Homo sapiens: one gene and its partner. The protein of the gene in region 1 purifies or fractionates together with the protein of each later gene. This does not show direct contact. Each region holds a gene or a part of one and is shown on either strand. Other genes may lie near its edges. The genes, in order: CYP4B1 and PKLR.

The links.
Region 2: the proteins of CYP4B1 (region 1) and PKLR purify together in Homo sapiens (affinity purification with mass spectrometry; one large-scale study listed by BioGRID and IntAct). This does not show direct contact.

What each region holds. Positions count from the first base shown.
Region 1 is NC_000001.11:46,812,406-46,816,212, reverse strand, and holds part of CYP4B1 (cytochrome P450 4B1), read right to left. Parts: intron 3,718-3,807; coding exon 3,590-3,717; intron 2,732-3,589; coding exon 2,607-2,731; intron 2,305-2,606; coding exon 2,150-2,304; intron 2,005-2,149; coding exon 1,898-2,004; intron 1,140-1,897; coding exon 949-1,139; intron 1-948. UniProt on the Homo sapiens protein: Cytochromes P450 are a group of heme-thiolate monooxygenases. In liver microsomes, this enzyme is involved in an NADPH-dependent electron transport pathway.
Region 2 is NC_000001.11:155,298,471-155,302,751, forward strand, and holds the start of PKLR (pyruvate kinase PKLR), read right to left. Parts: upstream 2,969-4,281; 5' UTR 2,926-2,968; coding exon 2,826-2,925; intron 2,483-2,825; exon of another isoform or gene 2,418-2,482; coding exon of another isoform or gene 2,411-2,417; intron 1,811-2,410; coding exon 1,628-1,810; intron 1-1,627. UniProt on the Homo sapiens protein: Pyruvate kinase that catalyzes the conversion of phosphoenolpyruvate to pyruvate with the synthesis of ATP, and which plays a key role in glycolysis.

The DNA of each region.
Region 1 (3,807 bases):
ATGTGAATTTGTCTCCATAAAACTCCCCACGAGCAGCATGGCTTCTCTTTCTCTTCCGTTCTGCACCCCTGATAGCACCTGGCATGTGTCTGGATACCCCGTGGGGGGGGGATTCTCACATATGACCAACAGAAATGGTAATGGAGGCTTCATACTCCAGGTCCTAGACCCTGGAGTTATAGGTCAGTCCCTTTCAAGTGGATCTAAAGTTCCCCCTCTGGCTCAGCATTTTCTGTACCCCTGCTGTGTGCCTAGCCCCCTCTTGGAGGCTGCTCAGGAGCCCAGAGAGAAAGGCAGGTTGTCTGACCACAAGCAAAGGCCTGAGGGGAACAGGCAGCCAGCAAGGGTGAAGGAGCCTCTTGAGAGACTCCCAGAGATCACACTGCAGAGAGGTCAGGGTCAATCCTTAAGTGTTTAGGAGTTCAGTCTTGAGCCAAGAAACAGGGGAAAACAATGGAAAGTTTTTAAGTGATGAAGTTTGGGGAAGTCTTTTCTCCTTCACCAGCAGGAGAGATATGGCATCTGGAAGCTGAGTATTGCCATCCAAAGGCAAGTAGCAAGGAACTGGCTCTCCCAGCTGTCTCAGCTCTGTTCACCCCCACATTTCCACCTCTTTCTCTCCCAGCTCTCCCTACTCTATCCAGGGACCCAGAAGGGTAATCAGGTTCTACCGTCAGAAGAAGTTAGCACACAAAATATCAGCCTCTTGTTGACAACTTTCTCTACATAACACTTCTGAAAGGCTCCATTTTGGGAGAATGGGCTCAGGGGTGCATCTGTGCCCAGCCAACCACTCTCCCCACCCCCCACCACCACAAAAGGTATGACACTGGGGGTAACAGGATAGCAGCCGCCACCTCACCTGATTTCCAGGATGGTTCAGGACAGGATGGGCATCGCCCTTCCCAAGGGCTGAGCAGGATAAACCGGGCCCACCCTCAGACTCACCACTGGAAGAAGTCCTGGTCCCCTAGGATCTCGCGGACCTCCTCTCTACAACGATGCTGGTGCTCAGGGTACAGGGCCATGCAGTAGAGAAACCAGGAGATACCACTGGTGGTGGTGTCATGGCCTTCAAACATGAATGTGTCCACTTCAGCCCGGAGGTCTGCATCTGACAGTTTGATGTCATCTTCATCCTGGGTTAGGGAAGGCATAATAGGACAGCTTGAGGTATTGGAGGTGGGTAACAAGAAGAACTCATAATGGTGGTTGTCAAATGAAGGTCTCTGGGAGGGAGTGAAAGCTCCTTTTCAGAGGGTGGATTAGGACCTTCCCCCAGATTCCTATATTCCTTCAAAGCTCAGCCTGGATGCCTCCTCCTCCACAAAGCCCTCCCTAAATGCTCTGGCCAAATGACTTGTGACCTTGTCCAGCCCTGACTGTTCTGCTCACTGGGCACATAGAATACCACCTGCCAGAGGAAGACATTTTGGTCAACATCTACCTACTGTCTCCCCTGCTGGACTGTAAGCATCTGGAAGGAAGGGCCAGGTCTTTCCCATCTCTGCATCCTAGCACGGAAATGACCCAGAGTCAGAACTCAGTGAGTTTCTAGAATTGATGAATAAAGAACTTACTGAATGAATGAATGAATGAATGAAGTCTAAGATTCTAGGATTCTACAAGGCCAACATTTTGGGGGATCTTAGAAGTCTAGAAATGTCGTCCAGCCACTACCACGTGACCTAGGCTCCCAACTCCACAGCTCAGGCACACACACCCTACACCTGCCCACCTCTGAACCCCTGCTAATATGTTTCATGGGACGAGGAACAGGTTATATTTGCTGAGGAAAGGGGGAAATGCTTAAGAGCTCCTTCTGCTGTCCTGGGAGGATGGTTGAAGACCTCTCTGGGACCAGTCCTCAGGTAGGGGTGGGCAACAATGTACTCACCCGGGCACCCAGGAGAATGTCCAGGAAGTCCAGGTGCCTCCGGTTCTGGATCTTCTTCCGCACCTTCTCATCCTGCAGGGCTGCCTTCCGCTCCCTGATGACCTGGTCTGAACCAAAAGCACAGAGTGTCACTGCCTGGGAAGCCATCTTTTGTCCAAAGGGGAACTGGGGTCCTATAATGGGAGGGGGCATAGAGGGGCCAGGAGGAGGAACCCAGGCTTCCTAGAGGTGAGCCTTGTGGGAAAGGCCCACCTGTATGGTCATGGGCCACCTGGCAGGCCCGCAGGAAGCGGCGGCCATGTGGGGTGAGCCAGTAGATGAAGTCATTATGGTACTGGAAGGACACAAGGCGCTGCTGCATCAACAGAGTGAGATCGCTGACTGCAAGGTAGTAGCTGCTGTCCCTGCTAAGCAGAGGGTAGGAGGAGGGATTGGCTTAGACACTGGCCCAGGAGCAGAGCCAGAGAAACTCCATTCCAGGAATCTAGCCCCAACCACAGAGCATCCTGCTCTTCTTCTCCCTGCCCTTAAGCCTCCTTGCTAAAGCCAGGTGTTTACCCCACCATGAGCAGGTCCTGTCTCCCCGCAAGCTAAGGCTCCCTGGGGCAGGACCCTATCTCTTCTCAGATCAGAGCCCAGGACCCCTGCCAACTCTCCCCTCTAAGATGGCTTTGGAGACAGTGCGGTCAGCCCCGAGGTGGCTCCTGACCTGTGGCCCAGGCCGGTGTCTCCTCTTCCAAAGGTGCACTTCATGAGTGTGTTCAGCGCCATGTGACCCACATCGCAGAAGATGTCAAAGGACTTACCCTCCCGAGCTTTCTCTTCCCACTTGTCCTGGAGTCCAGGGATAGGAGGCAATGTGTAGGAGGCGATGCAGGGGTTAGTTGGGCTGGATGCCCCAAGCTGCCCTCCAGGACCCGTAGCCTATCCTCCACCACCAAGCCCCCTTCACACACTCCCAGTCCCTGTCCTGCCCTCCATCCTGCTGGAATATCAGGATAGGGTGGGTAGAAGTTTGGAAGCCTCTGGGCTTCAGGCTCAGAGGGCAGGACCAGGAGGCAGATCTTGCACAGCACACAGACGTTTTCTCCCAGTCAGGGCAGCCTATAAGGGAGTAGGATGGCTGAGAGGTGGTGAGCTCCCCCGCATGGTGTATATGTAAGTAATCCTGGAGGGGAGTTTCCTACAAGGGGAAAGACTAGCCTGGATAACTTAGGGATTACCCAGCCCTAAGACTCTAACCCTGACCTCTGACATCCCTCTTAGAGATGAGTTGTATTGACATAATTCTGGGCAGCTGTGGTAGACAGAAAATGAGGAGACACGTTTTAGATGTGAAAGCCTTTCCCCATACTCTCAAATATAGGCAGTCCTCAAACCTGCTATGCTAGGAGCCTTATTAAGTTCTCACAGAGACCCTTTGGCCTGGGAGGAAAGAGGGCTGGGTCTCCTGGTGGAGACAAGGATCGGGCTGCCAGGACACTTAGAGATTCAGCACCGACTCAGTGGCAGCCTGCGGCACATGTCAGTAGAGCAGGGCTTTGGCACTGCTGTTGCAGGCAGAACAGGCCTTGGGGCTCAGCTATTCTCCTTACTGCAGAGCACCACCTACTCTCCCCAGGACAAAATCAGGGTGGAGAGGGGCTAGCCCAGCAGGCAACAGCCTCCAGTACTCTGGCACAGGGAGCTCACCAGCATGATACGTGTAGACTCAGTGAACACGGCCACATAGGGCTTCAGCACATCATAATGAAAGCCAGGTGTGAGCAGCTTGCGGTGCTGCAACCACTTGGGCCCCTCAAGAACCAGCAGGCCTCTCCCTGGGGAAGGGATGGGAGAGAGAGGGCTGGTCAGTCCAGGCCCTGGCAGCCTGGGGCTAAGCACATCCTACACGACTCCATCCCTGAGCC
Region 2 (4,281 bases), about 110 Mb from region 1:
GGCATGCACCACCATGCCCGGATAATTTTTTGTATTTTTAGTAGAGACGGGGTTTCTCCATGTTGAGGCTGGTCTCGAACTCCTGACCTCAGGTGATCCGCCCGCCTCGGCCTCCCAAAGTGCTGGGATTACAGGCGTGAGCCACCGCGCCCAGCTTTTTTTTCTTTTTTTAAAAACAAACAAACAAACAAACAGAGTTTCGCTCTTGTTGCCCAAACTGGAGTGCAATGGCGTGATCTTGGCTCACTGCAATCTCTGTCTCCCGGGTTCAAGCGATTCCCCTGCCTCAGCCTCCCGAGTAGCTGGGATTATAGGCACATGCCACCATGCCTGGCTAATTTTTTGTATTTTTAGTAGAAACAGAGTTTCACCACATTAGCCAGGCTGGTCTCGGACCCCTGACCTCAGGTGATCCACCTGCCTCAGCCTCCCAAAGTGCTGGGATTATAGGCAAGAGCCACCATGCCCGGCCAACTTTCACTCCTTTCTTTCTTTCTTTCTTTCTTTCTTTCTTTCTTTCTTTCTTTCTTTCTTTCTTTCTTTCTTTCTTTCTTTCTTTCTTTCTCTTTCTTTCTTTCTTTCCTTCCTTCCTTCCTTCCTTCTTTCTTTTCTTTCTTTCTTTCTTGCCTGCTTGCTTTCTTTCCTTCCTTCCTTCCCTCCCTCCCTCCCTCCTTCCTTCCTTCCTTCTTTCTCTCTCTCTTTCTTTCTTTCTTTCCTTCTTTCTTTCTTTCTCTCTTTCTCTCTAGGGTCTCGTCTGTCACCTAGGCTGGAGTACAGTGGCTCGATCATGACTCACTGCAGCCGTGACCTCCTGGGCTTAAGTGATCCTCCCACCTCAGCCTCCTGAGTAGCTGGGACTACAGGCATGCACCACCACACTCAACTAAGTTTTGTATTTTTTGTAGAGATGGGTTTTGCCATTTACCCAGACTGGTCTCAAACTCCTGGGCTCAAGCGATCTGCCAACCTTGGCCTCCTAAAGTGCTGGGATTACAGGCATGAGCCACTGAGCCCAGCCCACTTTTTTTTTTTTTTTTTTTTTTTTTTTTTTGTGAGATGGAGTTTTTCTCCTGTTGCCCAGGCTGGAATGCAATGGTGTGATCTCGGCTCACCACAGTCTCCGCCTCCTGGGTTCAAGCGATTCTCCTGCCTCAGCCTCCTGAGTAGCTGGGATTGCAGGCACGCACCACCATGCCCGGCTAATTTTGTATTTTTAGTAGAGACGGGGTTTCTCCATGTTGGTCAGGCTAGTCTCGAACTCCTGACCTCAAGTGATCTGCCCACCTGGGCCTCCCAACATGCTGCGATTACAGGCATGAGCCACCATGCCCGGCCTCACTTTCTAACGGAATAAATAATTTACTTATTTTAAATAATTTATTGTGCTTACTATTTATTGTCATACTCAGCTAGACTGTCAGCTCCCCAAGGGTAGGGATTTTTGTCTGTTTTTTTCACTGATCTACTCCCAGGGCCCAAAATCTTGTCTACTATATGCTCAACAAATTTTTGTTAAATGAATGACTGTGTCAAACATGGAGAAGTCTCAAAGGAGACAAAAGATGAAGAAGCACCTCAAGAAATACCAATAGGCCCTGTGTGGCTGCAGGGGGATGGGAGTGCTTACCGATGGTGGCAATGATGCTGGTACTGCGAGCAGCCACGGGCTCGGAGTCAATGTCCAGTAGGCAGAGGTGTTCCAGGAAGGTGTCTGCCATAGCAGCTGGCAGCTGCTGCTGCTGGAAGAAGGCAGTGCCCAGCTCCTGGGTCAGTTGGGCCACACTGGCCCGCCGCAGATACCCCGCTGGCCCTGTGGTAGAAGGGGGCTCAGGGACTGCATGTCACCTGCCCTTCCTCCCCATGCCTTCGTCTCTCAGCATACCCTCTGTTCCTTCCCTTCTTATGAGCTGGGCATCATGCATATATTATTTTATTATGTCACAAGGATCCTATAAAGCAGGTACTGTTAAATGTTCTATAATTATCCAATTTTATGGATAAAGAAACAGAGGCTGAGAAACAGGAAATAAATGGTCCAATATTATACAGCTTCTAAGTATGGATCAGCTAGGATTCAAATCTAGGTCTGACTAACTCTAGCCCAAGTTCTTGACCACTCAGTTATACTGACCCCGCACAACCCAGGACCCCCCGACCTGCAGCTACTGATGACCCTCAACCCCACCACCCCTTGATGTCTAGTCCCCAGCAGCCTCACCCTATGCAGACCCAGAATCACCCAGTTCCTGCTCCAAAGGTCTCTGTTTTCTCCCTTCCAACCCCTGGCTACTGGCTGGCTTCCCCACCCCATCCTCTGAGTCTCCCCAGGCTTCTCAAAGCTGCTACAGACACAGAGGTCCCTGTAGCTTGACCCATCCCAGTTCAGAGGAGCCCCCGATTCCAGCCGCACCTTCCATGCCACTGCACACCTCTCTGGGTCTCCCTCTCTGTGGGTCTGCTCCACACTGTTGGGTTGTCAGAGGCATGAGGCCCAGCTGGGCTGGGGATCAGTTCTGCAGACTGGTTAAAGTGTCACCACTGTCTCCTGTTCCATTGGAAGCCCTGTATGCCAGGGGCCAGAGTCCAGGAACCACGGGAGTGCCCCGTGGCTTACATGCTGTGGCTCTGGCCTGCCTATAGGGCCTGGAAAAGACCCAGGCCAGGGTCCATAATTTAACACACGGGAGGCTCTGAAGAACGTACGTTCCTCTCCAAAACCCACCTAGCCAGTGGCTGATGTGGATCATTTATGCCCTCCACCCTGGCTCCTAGTTTTCACCCTCATTTTCCTCCTATGTTCCATGGCTTCTGTCTCCCCTTCTTACCTCCTGGAGCCCCAATCAGGATGGACTTTGCTAAGTCTCTTTGGGACTTAGAGACCCATGACCGAAGCTGCAGGGATGATATGTTCTCCTGGATCGACATGCTTTCAGTGTGGGCCTGGGGCTGCGGGACCATGGAATGAGAGGGAGAGGATGACAAAACTGCTGGTCTTATCTAAGGGAGACAGAGAAGAGAAAAGGGGCACACCCAGTAGGCCACCCTGTCCCCACAGAATCCCTCCCCCAGAACGGCCTGCTCTCTGCCCTCATCTCCTGGCATTTCCTCTCATCCTTTTTTCCTGATAAATTTTCAATCCATTCATACTATCTGGTCATCCACGTGAATAGATATTTTTTTTTTGGCCAGTCATATGGCCCCATTTTCTTTGTACTTTACTGAAGTTAGCTCTAGTGAATCCAGGGAGCAGGGGCTGTAGGGTGGGGCTGGAGCCTGAAGAAAGACAAAAGGGATCACTGTGATAATATGGTGGGGGGAGGGTTACCCAGTTCTGACCACTTTTTTTCTCTGTCTCAACCAAGAAATGCAGAGTGCCTTCACCACTCTGTAACCTGGCCAGCTGCATGTTTTCGCCTACATGTTTGAACCCAAGATGGTACCTTGAACATTCTCAGACACTGATAAACTTGATTAGGTTGTTGCTGGAAACACTGAAAGATCGACTATTTTGCTAAACTTATAGACTCCTACCCCCAGGGAAATTTTCTTTCCTCCCTCCCTTCCTTCCTTTTTTCTTTTTCTTTTTTCTTTTTTTTCTTTTTTTTTTCACAGAGTCTCACTCTGTCGCCCAGGCTGGAGTGCAGTGGCGCAATCTCAGTTCATTGCAACCTCTGCGATCCTCCTGCCTCAGCCTACCGAGTAGCTGGGATTACAGACGTGCACCACCACACCCAGCTAATTTTGTTTTTCTTTTTTCTTTTCTTTTCTTTTTTTTTTTTTTTTTGAGACTGAGTCTGACTCTGTTGCCCAGGTTGGAGTGCAGTGGCGTGATCTTGGCTCACTGCAACTTCTGCCTCCTGGGTTCAAGCGATTATCCTGTCTCAGCCTCCTGAGTAGCTGGGATTACAGGCATGCACCACCACGCCTGGCTAATTTTTGTATTTTTAGTAGAGACGGGGTTTCACCATGTTGGTCAGGCTGGTCTCGAACTCCTGACCTCAGGTGATCTGCCCGCCACAGCTTCCCAAAGTGCTGGGATTACAGGTGTGAGCCACTGTGCCTGGCCTAATTTTTGTATTTTTAGTAAAGATGGGGTTTCACCATGTTGTCCAGGCTGGTCTCCAACTCCTGGCCTCAAGTATCCACCAGCCTCGGCCTCTCAAACTGGTGGGATTACAGGTGTGAGCCATCATGCCCAGCCTTGTTTTCTTTCTTTTTTTTTTAAAGGGTCTCACTCTGTCACCCTGGCTGGAGTGCACTCGTGTGATCATGGCTCACTGT